Regions from separate parts of the Homo sapiens genome. Here region 2 is linked to region 1. A link means that fine-mapping ties the variant in region 1 to the expression of a gene that starts in the linked region. Tissue or cell type: whole blood. Region 1 holds a variant in brackets; the other region holds the start of a gene. All regions are shown on one strand. Distances are between the middles of the regions.

Region 1 (4,380 bases):
TTTATATTTTTGGTACAGAAATTTTATATTTCACCATGTTGGCCAGGCTGGTCTCGAACTCCTGACCTTAAGTTATCGCTCGCCTCGGCTTCCCAAAGTGCTGGGATAACAGGCGTGAGCCACCGCGCCTGGCCGCCCTGCCCATTTTTGTATCGGTTTTCTGTGTCTCTAGCACTTTCTTTTCCACAGCCACCTATCAATCCTATTCAGCACTTCCACAGTATTTTCTAGAGAGCCAATTTTCCTGCCTAATTCACATTCTGAATTTCACAGGCGGACCAGTCCTGTTTGTCCTTATGCCATAGTCACTTCACCCTGATCGGCCTCAGGCTTCTCATCTGAGCAATGGGAAGAATGCCTTTCTCATAGCTGGGCTGAGGGTTGCAGTAGAGACAGAATCCACATCATTGCTGCCTGATGACTCCTGCAGGGAAAGCCTGAGAGACACAGAGAAGGCTGAGCTCTCGGCGCGCTACAAAAGGGCTCTCAGCTACATGGTGGCTCCTCTGTCCAGCTAGAGCTGAGCTGGCCTGGGTCTGGCTTAGTCACAAGCAGGCTCAGGGCACAGCTGAGAGGCAAAGGGAAGGAAGCCAGGACTGGCAGCCTGGGCTAAGGGTAAAACTTCTACCTCCTACCAATATTTATTGCAGTGTTTTTCAAACTGCAGGATATGGACGTCAGTGGGTTTGCAAAATTAATTTAGTGGGTGGTGATCTGCTTTTTAAAAAAACAAACATGGTGCCAGGCGTGGTGGCTCACACCTGTAATCCCAGCACTTTGGGAGGCCAAGGCGGGCAGTTCACTTGAGGTCAGGAGTTCGAGACCAGCCTGGCCAACATGGTGAAACCCCATCTCTACTAAAAATACAAAAATTAGCCAAGCGTGGTGGTACACGCCTGTAGCCCCAGCTACTCGGGAGGCTGGGCAGGAGAATGGCGTGAACCCGGGAGGCGGAGCTTGCAGTGAGCCGAGATAGTGCCACTGCACTCTGGCCTGGGCGAAAGAGCAAGACTCTGTCTCAAAAAAAAAAAAAAAAAAAATAGCTCTAAGGTCTTGCACTAACCGGTATGACCTGTCTGGCGTCTTTACAGGCAGTATTGGAATGTTATAGGGAGACATACAGGGTTTAAGAAATCCATCACGGAGAAGACCTTCAATTATCAATTATAGGTTTTAAATTTACCTCGGCTTTGAAAGGAATAGGATACATTGCTTTCTCTTTACTACTTCCCCAGGGGTTTGTAATTTAACATGAAACTGAGTAATCTGTAACTTTCCTCGATTCTCGTCTTTTGACCATACCTTGGGATGAATGAGTTCTTTGTCTGTGGTGGGGAGCAAGTTTAGGGAGGGGAGGAATCTTCCCTGATTAATATAGAGGCCTAAGCCAAATTTTAGCATTAAATCTCTCTAATAGGTTTGTTCCTGCCTCTGGAATAAACAGAAATTTAATATTAGCTGATTTGCTTTTATATATGACTTTTGTTCTTTTTCCCATTTGGGACATTTTCTTTTGAAGTGACCTATTTTTAATCTGAAACATTTATTTTGTCCTCTTTCTCTCCCTTTGCCTCTCCCTCTCTGCCTCTTTTTCTCTCTCACTCTTTCTCTTTGCCTCTCTCTCTGCCTCTCTCTTCCTCTTTGACTCTCTCCCTTTGCCTTTCTCTCTGCCTCTCTCTTTCCCTTTTTGCCTGTCTCTCTCTCTTTGACTCTGTCTGTTCTGTCAGTCTTTCTCTCTCCTCTAAGTTTTTTTTTTCTTTACTTTTGAGTCTCCTGGCTTTACTCTTTCATACTCTATATATTGCCTGGAGAGTGGGGGTCTAGGTTCTTTTTTTTTTTTTTTTTTTTTTTTTGAGACGGAGTCTCGCTCTGTCGCCCAGGCTGGAGTGTAGTGGCGCGATCTTGGCTCACTGCAACCTCCGCCTCCTGGGTTCACGCCATTCTCCTGCCTCAGCCTCCCGAGTAGCTGGGACTACAGGCGCCCACCACCATGCCCGGCTGCTTTTTTTTAGTAGAGACGGGGTTTCACCGTGTTAGCCAGGATGGTCTTGGTCTCCTGACCTCGTGATCCGCTCGCCTTGGCCTCCCAAAGTGCTGGGATTACAGGCGTGAGCCGCCGCGCCCAGCCCTCAGTCTAGGTTCTTTATAGGTTCTGGCCCCCTGGGTACTTTGTTGTATGGTAGACAGCAGAATTTTTGCCTTCTGCTTTTGTTTTTCATCATCTTTTCTTATATATACCTTTTGGGCTTCTCTTAGAAGCTCTTCTATAGGTTTATCTTTCCAGTTCTCTATCTTTTGTAATTTCTTGTTAATATCTGGCCAACTGTTAGTGACAAAATGAAGTTTTAACATTCCCTGCCCAAGAGGATCCTTGAGACCTAGACCAGTGTATTTTCTCATTTGTTCCTTTAATCTATCTAAAAATTCTATAGGCCCTTCATCTTTCCCTTGCTGTATATCAAATATTCGGGTAAGATACTGAGTTCGGGGTACCA[AT/A]TTTTTTTTTTTTTTTGAGATGGAGCCTTGCTCTGTTGCTCAGGCTAGAGTGCTGGAGTGCAGTGGCGTGATCTCGGCTCACTGCAAGCTCCGCCTTCTGGGTTCACGCCATTCTCCTGCCTCAGCCTCCTGAGTAGCTGGGACTAAAGGCGCCTGCCACTATGCCCAGCTAATTTTTTTGTATTTTTTAGTAGAGACGGGGTTTCACTGTGTTGGCCAGGATGGTCTCGATCTCCTGACCTTGTGATCTGCCTGCCTCGGCCTCCCAAAGTGCTGGGATTACAGGCGTGAGCCACTGCGCCCAGCCTCGGGGTACTGATGCTTTAATCCCCTTTATTATCAATTCCTTAAGGTCCTGCATATTTTCTCGGTGGGCTGCGTTGTTATTGTCCCACTGGGGGTCTTGGGTGGGAGTTTTTTGATCTGCTGTAGGAACGTTTTGGCCAGGAGGGTGTTCGTGTTCCTAGGCTCCCATAGCAGCTCTATGGATCATGTCTCTTTCTTCCCCCGAGAAGAGGGGAAAGGGAAATTCTGAATATCTTTTTTACATTGCTCTATCTCACGTTGAAGTCCTTTAAGGGAAAGGTACTTAGGTCGGTAGTGAGTGGGCTCTTGGGACGATTCTCAAGAGGCAGGGTTGTAAGAAAGGGGACATCAGAGATAGGAGAAGGGTCTGGGACAGCAGCTGCTTTTGTTTTTGGTCCTTTCATTATCCTTCTAACATTTTAACATTAGGCCTGGGGGAATATTACTGTTGCTAGCTTTCTCCTTTTTATCTCTTACCTTACTTGGGGCATTTCCCATCTTGGGTCCTGGTTAAGCTCAATCTCCCCTGTTGGAGATGTCTCGCCTATCCTTTAGCCCCACCTGCTGGAGGCTCCTTGCATTCATGCACACTTTCAACCCCCAGAATATCCTGACCACCAAGGAAATACTTTGTCACCCCTGCGATGTTTCTTAGCTTGGTCTCTGCACACTTACTTGGTCGCTGTGGTACATGAGGATCCTTTCCCCCAGGTCGCCAGCCCGTTTCTTTCTGCCTTGCTGAGAGTATAGGTTTATTCGTCACACTGGTTGGTCTCGATTCCTTACCCCTGTGGCCACCGCAACAAGGCAGTGGGACGTGCCTCCTCATGGGAGAGGTCTAGACCCTCCTCAGAGGAGGATGGGAATCCCAAATGAGACCCCAAATTTGTTAGAAATAAATTTTCAGTGCCACAAAAGAAATAGCACTCAAACATACATTTTCTCAGCAAGGCAATTTTACTTCTATACAAGAGTGCGTCTCATGGATGGTGCAATGGCGAGAGCACACCGGAACAAGGGAGGGGAATGGGTTCTTATCCCTGATGCAGGTACCCCCTACTGCTGTGTTGTTCCCCTATGGGCTAGGGTTGGACCGCACAATCTAAGCTAATTCTGACTGGCTATTTTAAAGAGAGCAGGGGTATAAGCCAGAGTGGTGGGGTGAGAAGTTTAGACAGGAAAGATGGTTACGGACCAGGTGACTAAAGGTGACTCAGGTCAGAGCAGGTGACAGAGGCTAGGAGGGGATTGTTTACTGAAACTAGGGGCAAGGAGACATAAAGAATGAGGAAATTAAAAGTTAAAATGAAGAACAAAGAACAGGTGAGCTGAACATACTGATACATTGGTTCTTTGGAGAGGATCTCAGAACTCAATGTACTTAACAAATTACAGGCTAAAACCTTTGAAGAAGAATTTATGATATCCTACATTATCATGGGGTAAACAATTCGTCCCTGACAGAATAAGGCTACTGGAGTTCTCTTCTTGTAACTCTGGGAAGGACTAGAGGGAACTGTGTCTGCAGTGGGGCCAGGTAGTTAAAAAGTCTGGACTGGGCCGAGCGTGGTGGCTCAT
Region 2 (4,380 bases), 22 kb after region 1:
GAGAATTCACCTAACTTTGCACATAGCAGTCAGACCAGGTATGACTGCTGGTGATGAAATGAAACCTGACATTCTACTTTCCCCTTTCTGAGTCCTCTGACAGATACATCTATCCACTGAGCAGTAATTCTGTACCAGGCCCTGTACTAAGTGTATCTGTGCACCATCTTTCTGACTCCTCCAAGCAACCTGGAGGTGGTATGTGGCCTGCTTTACAGGTGAGGAGGCACAGGCCCTGCAGGCCCATGGCTTGAGAGCTCCTAAAAGCAGCAGAGCCAGAGTCTAAACACAGATAGGCTTGATTCCAAAGTCCTGCTCCTTCCATTGGTGAGGATCGCCATCCAGGGGAGGGCAGCTGGGGACTTGGATCCTGCCGGCTTGCAGAAGAATGCTTTGATCACAGAGTGGTTTCAAAAATAGAATTGAAGGCCGGGTGCGGTGGCTCATACCTGTAATCCCAGCATTTGGGGAGGCTGAGGTGGGTGGATCTCCTGAGGTCAGGAGTTCGAGACCAGCCTGGCCAACGTCGTGAAATCTCATCTCCACCAAAAATATAAAAAAATTAGCCGGGTGTGGTGGTGCTTGCCTGTAATCCCAGCTACTGGGGAGGCTGAGGCAGGAGAATCGCTTGAACTAGAGAGGCGGAGGTTGCAGTGAGCTGACCTCGTGCCATTGCACTCCAGCCTGGGCGACAGAGTGAGACTCCGTCTTAAAAAAAAAAAAAAGCGAAATACCCTTTTTCGTCCATTCCTCCCATACCTACTGGCCAATCAAGGTGTGTGGTTCGTGTGGGGAAGGTCCCAGCTTCCGCAGGTGAGCTCTGGCACCGGCCTTACCTGCACTGATGCACCTGGCCCTTCTGGTCAGTTAGGATGAAGTAGTGGCCATTCCAGGCCTGTCGGTCCTTGTCCAGAGTGACGTGGGCGATGGTGGTGTTGTACTGGACACGGAGCCCCAGCGTGTCCGCGAAGTCACCCAGGTAGCGCACCATGTCGCGGGCGTCGGGGAAGTAGGCACGCGAGTAGTGTCTGAAGAGCAGCCGGGGGTCGTGGCTGAGCAGAGAGTTCCAGTCGTGGCGGAGGTTGAACTCGGCGTTAGCCTTGCCCGTGTACCGCTTGTTGATGCTGATGAGCTTGCGGTGCCGCGGGTAGCGTGTGAAGAAGCTGCCGGGCCGCGGGGCCCGCTCGAACACTGCGTAGTCGCGTCCAGCGCGCTGCAGGAAGTAGGCCATCTGCAGGCCCGCGGGCCCAGCGCCCAGCACGCAGTAGTCCCGGCGCGGGGGCACCGACAGCGCTGGGTGCAGGGCGATGGCCAGGAGCAGCCCCGGGGGACCCCACAACGGGGCCGCAGCGGAGAGGCCCATCCTGCAGCAGATCAGAGGGGTAAGGCCTCGCACCCGGCCCGGCGGCTGGGAGACACGAGGCCCAGAAAGAGGCGGGGCCTGCGGGAACTCTCACTGCAATCTGGGTCACGGCCAGGCCCAGAAGCCGTCCTCAGAGCTCATTTGCCCGGACTCCACCGTTTCAAGCTGGGACTTGGGGCTCCCCGGAATCCCGAGCCCCTCCATCTTATCTCCCTCAGGGTCTCCTTCCTCAGGGGCACCGGCTCCCCGCTTATGATTGTAGTAACCTCCACCCTGGGGAAGGAGAGCGTACTCCCCAATTTTCCCCTAATTTGAGGGTGCCCAACACCCCTTTGAACCACCCTCCAGGTTGGACCTTCCAGAGGCCTTGGCCCCTCTCCAGCGACCGGGTGGGAGCCTGAAGTGGGTGTGGCCTGCGTGCGCCCCGCCCCCTGCCAGGGTCCGCGCGCCCCAGGCTCTTCGGCCACGTGACAGGGATGCCGCGCACACCTGCCGCCCGCCCGCGTGCGCTTCAGGAGCCGCCAGGTCCCTACGCCCGCAGCTCCGGCCTCCCCGCCTCCGACCGAACCCTGAGAAACGCGCGAACCTCCCAGCCGCTCCGGCTGCAACCCGTGGTCTAATGAGGCCGCGCTTGGCTCGCTTGCTCCGCGGCGGCTCCGCCCCTCGCGCCCGGACCAATGGCAGGGGGCGGGGTCACGTGCGCGGCGCGCGGCACGCCGGGACCAGCTGGCAGGCTGCCTGCTCCGGCCCAGCGCGGGAGAGGCGCGCGCGTGCTGCGTTCGCTGCTCCGGGGGCTGGTAGAGGGGCCTGGGGCTAGCGCGCACCCGCGAGGGTGGAAGGTCTGGAGATCCGGGATGGGGAACTGGGTCCTTCGTTTTAAAAGGTGCCTCTCTACACGGAGGGAGGGGAGCACGTGATTTTTGGAGCTAATCCTAGCTCTCATATTCCATGAATGTAGCCAAACGCTAAAACTAGTTGGCCTACCCAGTTTTGTGGGACTGGAAACCAGCGTGGTGGAGCCAGGACCGATAAGCCAATTAACAAGCGTTTGCTACAGTGACTCAGTGTACTGCTTACCAAGTAACATACACGACTGTCCTAATCTTCCACCAAATAGGAGAGGTGGGCAAGGCATTGTTTCCGACATTTGGTAGCTGACTGGTCAAATGGAGACATAGGGATGAAGGGATATGTTTACAATCACAGGAAGTGGAGCCTGGAATTAAAACTCAGTGGAGGCAAGATAAATGGCAGGAGGAAGATAACGTGAACTGGATGATGAAGGTTGGCTTCCCAGGGGTGGCAAGTGGCCCCTGCATGAGATTTACATGGGGAGAAATACGAAGTCAGTGTAGGAACCTTCAAAGTCCAGTGAAATGGGGCTGAGTGTTCTTGGGGGAAGGGCAGGTGGAAAGAACTGCGAGCCTGCAGATTTGCATGGCTGGAGATTCTTTGAATTAAAAATCGTAGCTGGGGACTCCTTAGAAAAATTTTCCTGACCTCTCAGGCCTACAAGTACCTACCAAAGAATGTCATTTACTTTTTCTTTTTTTTTTTTTTTTGAGATGGAGTCTCACTCTGTCGCCCAGGCTGGAGTGCAGTGGCGTGATCTCGGCTCACTGCAAGCTCCACCTCCCAGGTTCACGCCATTTTTCTGCCCCAGCCTCCCTAGTAGCTGGGACTACAGGTGCCCGCCACCACACCCGGCTAATTTTTTGTATTTTTAGTAGAGACAGGGTTTCACTGTGTTAGCCAGGATGGTCTCGATCTCCTGACCTCGTGATCCGCCCGCCTCGGCCTCCCAAAGTGCTGGGATTACAGGCGTGAGCCACCGCGCCTGGCCGAATGTCATTTACTTTCTTCAGTCTGTGTCAACATCAGAGAAAAGCTCCCTCAGAGCAGAAATTGTCCAGTATCTGACATACGGAAGTTTAAGCATTTGTTGAATAAGCATTGCAACCAGAGAGGTCAGGCAGAATACTTTGCCAAAAATAAAGTAGGGATGTCTTATTTCTTCTTTTTGAGACAGAGTCTCACTGTCACCCAGGCTGGAGTGCAGTGACACAATCATGGCTCACTGCAGCCCTGACCTTCCAGGCTCAAGCGATCCTGCTTCAGCCTCCCAAAGTGCTAGGGATTACAAGTGTGTGCCATGGCCCCTGGCCAATTTTTCAAAAAAATTTTTGGGGGCATATGTGTATATATTTATGGGGCATATGAGATGTTTTGATAGTCATGCAATTTGGGGATGTCTGTTTCTTAGTGGTTGTGAAGATTATGAGAATGGGTGCTGGCAAACAAGTTCCTAAAATAATTGCTGGTCTTATGTGGTGAATACAGTAGTGGGAAATTAAACAGAATTCGTCAAGTATGGTAGGGCCCTACGAGTAGGCTGAACCTAGATTGTAAGCAACAGGATGCTACTGGGAGTTTCTGAATGTAGGATTACTGCAGCAGTCAACTTGGTAGCCCCATGCAGGACAGATAAAAGCAGTGGACAGCTACTCGGGAGGCTGAGGCAGGAGAATGGCGTGAACCCAGGAGGCGGAGCTTACAGTGCCTGAGATTGCGCCACTGCACTCCAGCCTGGGCAACAGAGCAAGACTCCGTCTCAAAAAAAAAAAAAAAAAAAAAAAAGGCAGTGGAAACTGATGCAAAGTATTTTCAGGGAATGAGCTTGAGTCACTTCCACTTGCTTCTGTTAATCCTGTTGGACAGGGCCATGGTTTGCAAGAGGCAATTTGGTGAATACTGGTCCAACCTGGAAACCCCCGGCACTAGTCACACCACTTTAATCTGTTTTTTAACACTCTGTATTCACATTGAAAACTCCCCAAGTACACTTTTTCTCTCCACTGCTTCTAACACAGTTCAAGAAACCTTTTGCTTGCTGAGGTTCGATTCATTAAAATTAATTTTGTGTTTTTTCAAGCTACTTTAAAAAAAAAACCTGTAACTTTAGAAATGCTGAGCTTTTTTTGAGAGTCTCTGTAATCCAAATTGGAGTGCAGTGGTGT

Evidence for each region. PIP is the estimated chance that this variant, and not a neighbour inherited with it, causes the effect.
Region 2: it holds the start of FOXRED2, and the variant in region 1 is fine-mapped to the expression of FOXRED2 in whole blood (INTERVAL, PIP above 0.99). The same link has a PIP of 0.9 or more in skeletal muscle.

The regions. Positions count from the first base shown.
Region 1 is chr22:36,483,450-36,487,829 of GRCh38, forward strand. It overlaps FOXRED2 (FAD dependent oxidoreductase domain containing 2), which reads right to left. Exons shown (of 9, transcript NM_001102371.2): 9 at 3,741-4,380. Among named protein-coding and RNA genes, the nearest start is that of TXN2, 4.0 kb to the left of the region's middle. The variant AT/A (reference allele first, on the strand shown) is at 2,496.
Region 2 is chr22:36,505,060-36,509,439 of GRCh38, forward strand. It overlaps FOXRED2 (FAD dependent oxidoreductase domain containing 2), which reads right to left and starts at 1,981. Exons shown (of 9, transcript NM_001102371.2): 1 at 1,950-1,981; 2 at 837-1,364. The coding sequence starts at 1,363. RefSeq lists a silencer at 1,728-2,227.